3 separate regions of the Homo sapiens genome follow, and all the other regions are linked to region 1. The links come from fine-mapping of genetic effects on gene expression. A gene starts in region 1. Each other region holds a variant in brackets. All regions are shown on one strand. Distances are between the middles of the regions.

Region 1 (2,756 bases):
TGCTCCCGCGGTGCTCCCAGGTGCCAGGCCACGTGCCAAGCATGCAGAGAAGCTGTGCATTCACCACTCAGCCCCACAACAGTCCTGGAGGGTGGGTGCAATCATTGCCTCTTTTACAGCTGGGGAGACTGAGGCACAGAAGGTTTCAGTCACTTGCCCAAGATCACACATTTAGGAAGTGGTGGAGCTGGAATTTGAACTCAGAGCTAGGCTTGGGGGCCCAGGCTCTGAACCCTGCATTCCACGTGGCCGGGTGGAGGCTGCTAAACAGAAACGGCCAGCCAAAGGCAGCGTTCTGGAGGGTTTCGCGTCACCACGCCCGCATGGTTGAAGTCAGCAAGGCCGCTTTCAGGCTCATGTAATTATGTGCATGTGGTTTATGTCCTTCTGGTATCGCACCCTAAGACAACCATCCCTAGGAGAGATCAAGTCTGTGCACAAGCCTTCGACCCGGGTCACCCCAGGGCGAAAGGCTGCGCAGCGGAGAGGCCGTTCGCCCGCTAGGGGGCGCCTCGCGGGGCCATCCCGGGCAGGAGAGGCGGCCGCGCGTCCACAGGTACAAAATGCGTGGGAACGCCACGCATGGAAATGACAAAGCTCAGCTGGAGAACCAGGAGGCCAAGAATCTGGCCCGGGCAGCCACGGTGCAGGTACAGGTGCAGGCGATGGGAGCTAGGGCTCCCCGACTTCCCGACCCCGGTGCCACCTCTTGACCCCAGAGCGGGGAAGCACCTGGGAGCCCACAGGGCCTCGCGGACCAACCCGGGCTCGCGCACAGGGCAGCTCACGTGGCCGGGGCCCCACACCCCAGCATCCCGGCCGGTACACGAAGTACCCACCCAACACTGCATGCATGGGGTTCCTGCCTGGCCCCTCCCCAGGAGGCGCTGGCCCCGGTGAAGGCGGCTCTGCCCTCCCTGGGCAGCCGGGAGATGAGCTGGGGCCTGAGTAGGTGACAGGGCTGTCCCTGGGCCACCGCCTGCAGGCCTCACATTCCCGTCATTGTTGTGCTCCCTTGGGCCAGCTGCTGCCGGGCGATGGGCAGGCACGCATGAGCGCCCCCACTTCCCCTGGGGGCCTCGGGGTGCCTGCTGACACCTGTCACCCTGCAGTCCCTGCATGGGTCGGGGCTTCCTGAGGGTCTCAGAGCCTCACCCCAGTGCCTGCCCAGGCCCGGAGTGAGGAAGCCGAGTGGGCAGGACAACAAAAGGCCTGAGCCCAGCCAGGCTGGCGACTGTGGCTGAGTGGCCCTGGCTGCCATCTGAGGGGTGGCCCAGCCTCCCCCTCCCACCTCTCCGGCTGGGACATGGAGGGAAACCTGTCTCCTGAGCCCCCACCCTGAGGAGCCTGGCTTGGCCGCTGGCAAGGGCCAGGGGGCGTCTCCAAAGCACCCTGCTGTGATCCCTGGCCTCGGGGGCCTAACCCACCCTCCCCGCTGCTCCTGGCTGGGTTCCCCCTGCCCTCTCTGCTGTCCCCTGCCCCAGAGCCCCCTGGATCCTACCTCTCACTCAGCCTGGACCTCGAAGCTGAGAACACAGACCCGAGAGAGCAGGACTGCCTAGCCGGCAGCCAGGGGACACGGAGGCCTGCAGGGCGGGGCAGGGCTGGTCTGGTGGCCACGTGGGGAGGGTATTTTTAGCCTCTGTCTGCAGGGCGAGGGGAGGGTCAGGCAGTGAGGGCTGGGCTGGTGGGGGAAGGAGTGAGATGCCGGCTCCTTGGTGACTGTTAGCTCAGAAAGCCCACTGAGGCCTTCCAGGGACTTGTGGCCTAGGACAGACATCAGGAAGGGCTCCAGGGCAAGGACAGGTGAAAGCTGTCGCGGTTGGGCTGGCTGGTGGGGGCAGGGATGCAGCTTCCCCACCTGTTTCCTCGTCTACAAGTTGAGTACAGTGGAGCCCGTGGTGGGGGCCTGGGGTCACAGAGACCCTCAGCCCAGGGCCAGGACACCGACAGGTGCTGCCCTCGCTGTTGATGTCAGCGGCACCTATGTGTCCTCTTGTTCTGTTGTCACGTGGGAAAACGTGATTATCATGAATAAGCACAGGTTGGTCAGCAGAGGCTTTCCGAGCTTGGGGTCCATGGTGGCGGTAGGGAAACTTTGCCCAGAGAGGGGAGGTGCCACACTCAGTTGCCCCGCCCAGCTAGCGTGGATAGGGGAGATCTTGGGGCTCCTTGCCCTGCTACCCCATGGCCTTGGCCTCGGGGCTGCCCAGGACGGCTAAGAAACAGGGTCACCTAAAAATACAGCAGTGGACTATCAGCCTCCCGTCCAGCACTTGGTTCACGGTAGTCGCAGGGGGAAGCTCTCACGCCTGGGACTGAAATGGGCTCAGAACCACAGGCCCTGACCAAGGTCAGGTGGGTTGAGTTGGGGACCCAAGAGGCCACTGGACATTTCTCACACCAGTGACCAGAGCAGAGCTTTGTGGCTGAGGGACTTCAGGTGCATGGGAGAGAAGCCCTCAGCCCTCAGCCCTCTACCCATCGGCCATGTGGGCCTGAGCAGTATGACCATTTCCAGGTGTGCTGCGACCTGGAGGAACTGGGGAGTATTGGGTCTGGCTGTGGCCTCTTGATGCTACTAGGGATTGTCCTAATGCTCTTACAGACCAGAGAGGTCCAGGCGGCCCCCAGGGAGACAGAACCCCACTCCTGGTCCTGAGATGCACACAGCCTATGGAGGGGAAGCTCACCTACAAATTACTGCCAAGTCTGCAAGGTGCCCTTAGGGTTACCTTCCATAGAGATTCCCTGAG
Region 2 (2,756 bases), 25 kb after region 1:
GCACCACTGCACTCCAGCCTGGGCAACAACAGTGAAACTCCACCTCAAACAAGTTGTGAGACCCCAAAGGAATTTTCAGCTCCTCTCTGGACTGCAGTGCCTCACCTATAAAAGGTGCAATTAGTGTTCATTCTCTACAGATAAATACAGGTTCAGCATGCATGTGGAGCGGCGGGTGTGCCATGCCGTGAGTAAATACAACGTGACGCTGTCGTGTGTGGCAGGGGGCCTGGCAGCGAAGTCCAGTGGCCTTGAGCTCATCTGGCTCTGTGACTTGCTGGTCAGAGAACTTGGCCAGCTAACTGGGCCTGTCTGTAAAGTAAGGACACCTGCATTGATCTATGGTCGGCACCACCAGCCTCCCTTGCCCCGGCCCCTACCGACACTCACCTGCGCAGCTAGCAGGTCAGCTTGAGACCTCGAGGGCGAGTGCCTTGTCCTGGGGGAATCCTCTGGAGGGCTTCCTTCCCCTCCCTCCTCTGCCCTGAGTTCCATGGCCTCCAAGGTGGCCACAGCCTGAGGAGGCCACAGCGCCACCAGGGGAAGGTGGACAAAAAGATAGAGCCCTGCTCCCTGGAATCCCTGCAGGTCCGAAAGACCAGTGCCAGAACCGCCGCAAGATCAGCTCCAGAACCGCCACAAGACCAGAGCCAGAACCACCGCAAGACCGGAGCCAGAACCGCCGCAAGACCAGCGCCAGAACCGCAGAGCCACAGGGCTTGTCACTGCCTGAGGATGATGACCCTGCGCCTCTAAGCTGCAGACTGGGGTGTCTGCTCACGCACTGCCTGCCTTCCTGGGTGCCGTGCTGCCCTCCAGAGAGTAAGCAGCTCAGCCCGGGGGCCGCCGGCTCTGGCACAAATATGCAACCCTGGTCGTGGTGCGAAAGCTGCCACCCATAGCGTGGCCGGGTGCCCACAAGGCTTTATTTGTGGGCACTGACATTTTAACTTCAGATGAGTTTCATGTGTCATGAGATGTGATTCTTTTTCCTTTTCCCCATTTAAAAAGGGAAAAACTATTTTGAGCTTGTGGGGCCACACAAAATCAGGCGTGCGCACACCCCTTCCCCGGGGGCTGCTGGGAGGCTTGAACCAGATAACGCCTGAAGGCTCCTGGAGGCCCAGAAGGGCTGAGCCAGTGGCTGGTGTGGCTGAGGAAGCAGGAAGCATTTGTCAGATGTGCAAGGACACCGGGGCTGGGGAGGCTGGGGCAGGTCGCTGAAGCCAGTCGCTGGAGAGAGGCACTGCTCCCGGAGGCTCTGGGCTGGGGGAATGGCAAAGGTTTGCCAGGGCGCGGTGGGTGTGTGGGTGGGTGGAGGCGGAGCGTCCCCAAGGAGCTGTTGCTGGGAAGAGGAGGCCAGGATGCGGAGGAGGGGAGTTACGGGGTCTGCAGGAGTATGAGGGGTGTCACGGCAGAGGAAGGGGGACAAGTGTCAGACCTGGCCCCAAATGGTGCTGGGGAGAGAGGGCAAAGCCCTGATAGGAACAGA[G/A]CCATGGGGAGGAGGAAGGGAACCTCTCCCCCAGAGTGACGGACCCCATCACCGCTGGGATTGTCAGCAGAGGGTGGGTAGTGACAGACAGAACTCTGTCTGGAAGTCTGTGCAGAGGCCACAGCAGTGGAAAAGCAGGTGAGCAGATGGATCCACTCCAGGGAGGAGAGAACCAGGTGGGTCAGACCAACCCACTGCCCAAGGACGTGAAACACGGATTCACTGTAAAAGTCACCTGCTGACAGCCTCAGTAAGGTAACGCAGAAGTCAGGAGTGACACGGCCACACTCAGGAGAAAAGGAAAGCCTGGGGGGTGAGGGGTGTCGGGGAGCCCAGCACTCAGAACTGCTCTTGCCCTGAGCCTGGGCTGACGACGGAAGAACAGTTATATGATGTGCCGTCCTCCCGCAGCCTCAGGGGACCAGGGAGGCCAGGAACCGTGCGGGTTCCATCAGGGGTGGGGGCTCTGGTTGACCACCTCCCGATGTGGCCAAGGGCTCCACCCTCAGAGAAAATGGAAGCCAGACGCCAGCCAGGCCCCTGGTTCCTGTCACGGAGGTGGTCCTGGGAACTTCCTGCCTGGAATGCGGATTAAGATGATCCTAGGCCCACATGTGCCCAGCAAAGGCAAATAAGATATTGCTAAGGCCTCCAGTTATGCCTACGCTTCATTTTTCATGTCAGCATATGTCAACAAAAATAAAAATACAAGGAAATAAAATACCATGAACAAGAACCAGAAGACCCAGCCCACAAAGAAATAGAAATAAAGCTCTGAGAACTAACAGACAAAAAACAACTGTGCTTACTACTTTTAAATAAAGAAAAATCCAGGCAGCCAGATCACATCTCCTCAAAATAACAGAGTAAAAATAAACCCCTAAACATTAGTAATTATACTGACTATAGATGGTCTAAATGCACCAATAGGTAAAGACTGTCAGGCTGATGAAAAAAATTAAACATGACTGCATATGGTTAACCAGAGGTACTGGCAAACATAAGGATTCAGAAGGCCGAAAGCAAAGTATGAATAAGCTTCACCATCAAATAAGTATAGAAAGAAAAGTCATGTGTATACATATATCAGATAAAACAGACTAGATATGGGGTTCAAAATATATAAAACAAACGGTGACAGGATTGTAGGGAAACACAGACAAATCCAGAATAATAGCCAGGAATGTTCACACAATTCTCTCGATCCACTTGAAATCCAGTAAACTAAAATGTGTACCTATGGAGATCTGAAGAACACAATGAC
Region 3 (2,756 bases), 160 kb after region 1:
CAGCACCACTTCCGCCATAACTCCCCAGAGGATAGAAGGCCAGACTGCCACCAGGGTCAACAAGCCACCCACAAAGCAAGCTAAACAAAGGAGCACTCTAGGGGCGGACCCCACAAGCATGAACCATCAGGCACTCTTGTTGCACTTTGTGTGTACAGCCACCTCTCTCAGATCAGGCCCACCCTTCTCTTTACCCTCACCTCACAAACTCCACCACAAGCCCAAACTACTCACCACTCAGCCTGGCCTGCAGCCCCTGAGGTGAGTGGAAGGAAAGGCCACGAGAGGGGAGGTTACACTGAGTTCTACTGCCATTTATCGCCAGTGCTTTGGACTCTGAAACTTAATCGCTACCAGTGCCTGGGGAGGATGGAAATGGTAGCCTCAAGCGTTGGCTCTGCACCTCTCCTTGTGAGACCCTTCTCCTTGTGAGACCTTCTTGTTCTTGATGGGTTGCACAAGGTCAGAGAACCTCAGCTGGGCCCTGTCAACCCAGCCAAAGATATTTCCTTCCTTGGAGCTGGAGGGGCGCCCAGGTTGGTAGGTCTTAGTGGGCTCTGTCAGCCCTGGAGCCGGCAGAGAGCTCCAGGGTGAGTTCCTGAGCAGGGCAGGAGACATGGAGACGCAGAGCCTCCTTGAACTCTCTTTTCTGTGGACTTGCACTTCTATTCTGCTACTTTGGTTTCTGCTTGTCGCATCTGCCCCCACAGAGCCTGTCCTACCCCAGTATGTGGGTCTGGCTGTCTTGCTGCAATAAACCCGCAAACTGGGCAAGTTTCTTAACCTGAGTCTCAGCAGTTTATGGGTAAAATGAAGGATCAATCTGGCAAGGCTTTGAAAAGTCAAACAAGAATTACCCCATTAAGTGCCTACTATGGCTCGAATGGGGCCAAAATTCATGCTGAAGCTTAATCCCCACTGTGGTAGTATTAAGAGGTGGGGCCTCTAGGGAAGTGATTGTCATCAGGGCTCTGCCGCATAAATGGATCAGGGCCTTATAAAAGAGCAGGAGGAAACTAGCTTAGGCCCTTTTTGCCCTTCCATCTCTTCTGCCATGTGAAGACA[C/AC]GGCAACAAGGTGCTATCTTTGAAGCAGAGAACTACCTGTACCAGATACCAATCCTACTAGGATCCTGGACTTCCCAGCCTCCAAAACTCTATTGTTTATAAATTACCCAATCTGTGGCATTTTGTTACAGCAGCACAAATGAACTAAGAAGGTGCCCAACAGAGGGCCTGGCCCTAAGTGCTCAGTATACAAAAGCTCCTATTAGCTACTATTAACCATGACAATGATTGGGTAAAGAAGATGGGACAGTCTGTTTGTCAGCTTCTACCCACTCCTCCTCAGCTGACATCCAGGCCCTCCTTGCTGCAACTCCTCAGGCACTGAAGCACTCACTGTCTACTCCAAGTACAGCAACAACACACCATTTTCCTGGCTTGTGCTGCAGATGGAGCCCGGAATCTGAGAAGACACTCAAGTCCTATCAGGCACACCCAAGTAAGGTGCTCCAGCTCTTGCCCCGCCCTCTGGGCCTCTTAGGGTAAAGCCTCCAGCACAACAGACGCTGAATACAATCTACTATTCTCCCAGGCTTAGTAGGTAAGGCCAAAATGTGAAATACCATTCTCACTCCACTTTCAACCAATCATCAGGCTGGATAATCCAAAACTAAGTCCAAACTCAGGGGCAGAAGGAGAGTAAGAAAAAGAGTACAGGCCAGGCACAGTGGCTCATGCCTGTTAGTCCAGCACTTTGGGAGGTCAAGGCAGGCAATCACTTGAGGTCAGGAGTTTGAGACCAGCCTGGCCAACATGTTGAAACCCCGTCTCTACTAAAAATACAAAAATTGGCTGGGCGTGGTAGTGTGTGCCTGTAATTCCAGCTACTCAGGAGACTGAGGCATGAGAATCGCTTGAACCCAGGAGGTGAAGGTTGCAGTGGGCCGAGATCATGCCACTGCATTCTGTCTTAAAAAAGAAAAAGAGGACACTGTTAAGTCCCCACAAACCCAGTGCCCTCACAGTTCCCATTCCTTCCCCAGTTTAACAGTGATTTGTGTCTGGGAAGGCCAAGCACAGCACATTTACATACACCAGCTCTTCTGCTGTTAGATTCTTCAGGACACGTAAATGCCTGCAATCTCCATGTTGTCAACCTAATACAACATGAAAACAGGGAGTTCGAATACACTAATCAACCCTTTGCTTTCTAGCTGCTCTACATGTAAGAAATGTAAACACTTGACGGGTACAGTGGCTCACACCTGTAATCCCAACACTTTGGGAAGGCCGAGGTGCGTGGATCACTTGAGCCCAGGAGTTCAAGACCAGCCTGGGCAACATAATGAAACCCCATCTCTACAAAAAAATAAAAAATAAAAAGACTAGCTAAGCATGGTGGTGCACGCTTGTAGTCCCAACTACTCAGGAGGCTGAGGTGACAGGATCGCCTGAGCCCAGAAGGCTGAAGCTGCAGTGAGCCATGATTACGCCACTGCACTCCAGGCTGGTGATAGAGTAAGAGTCTGTCTCAAAAAAAAAAAAAAATTTTAAAGAAATGTAAACACCTGTGATAAAGTAAGGCCAGGCACAGTGGCTCACGTCTGTAATCCCAGCACTTTGGGAGGCAGAGGCGGGTGGCTCACCTGAGGTCAGGAGTTCAAGACTAGCCTGGCTAACATGGTGAAACTCTGTCTCCATTTATGGCCGGGCACAGTGGCTCACACTTGCAATCCTAGCACTTTGGGAGGCCG

What was found. PIP is the estimated chance that this variant, and not a neighbour inherited with it, causes the effect.
Region 2: its variant is the best candidate, but not a certain one, in a credible set for the expression of KLHL30 in whole blood (TOPMed, PIP 0.63).
Region 3: its variant is the best candidate, but not a certain one, in a credible set for the expression of KLHL30 in whole blood (TOPMed, PIP 0.66).

What each region holds. Positions count from the first base shown.
Region 1 is chr2:238,137,504-238,140,259 of GRCh38, reverse strand. It overlaps KLHL30 (kelch like family member 30), which reads right to left and starts at 1,592. Exons shown (of 8, transcript NM_198582.4): 1 at 1,502-1,592.
Region 2 is chr2:238,112,980-238,115,735 of GRCh38, reverse strand. All of the region lies in intron 4 of ESPNL (espin like), which reads right to left. Among named protein-coding and RNA genes, the nearest start is that of ESPNL, 14 kb to the right of the region's middle. The variant G/A (reference allele first, on the strand shown) is at 1,493.
Region 3 is chr2:237,974,900-237,977,655 of GRCh38, reverse strand. All of the region lies in intron 2 of UBE2F (ubiquitin conjugating enzyme E2 F (putative)), which reads right to left. All of the region lies in intron 2 of UBE2F-SCLY (UBE2F-SCLY readthrough (NMD candidate)), which reads right to left. Among named protein-coding and RNA genes, the nearest start is that of UBE2F, 9.3 kb to the right of the region's middle. The variant C/AC (reference allele first, on the strand shown) is at 1,066.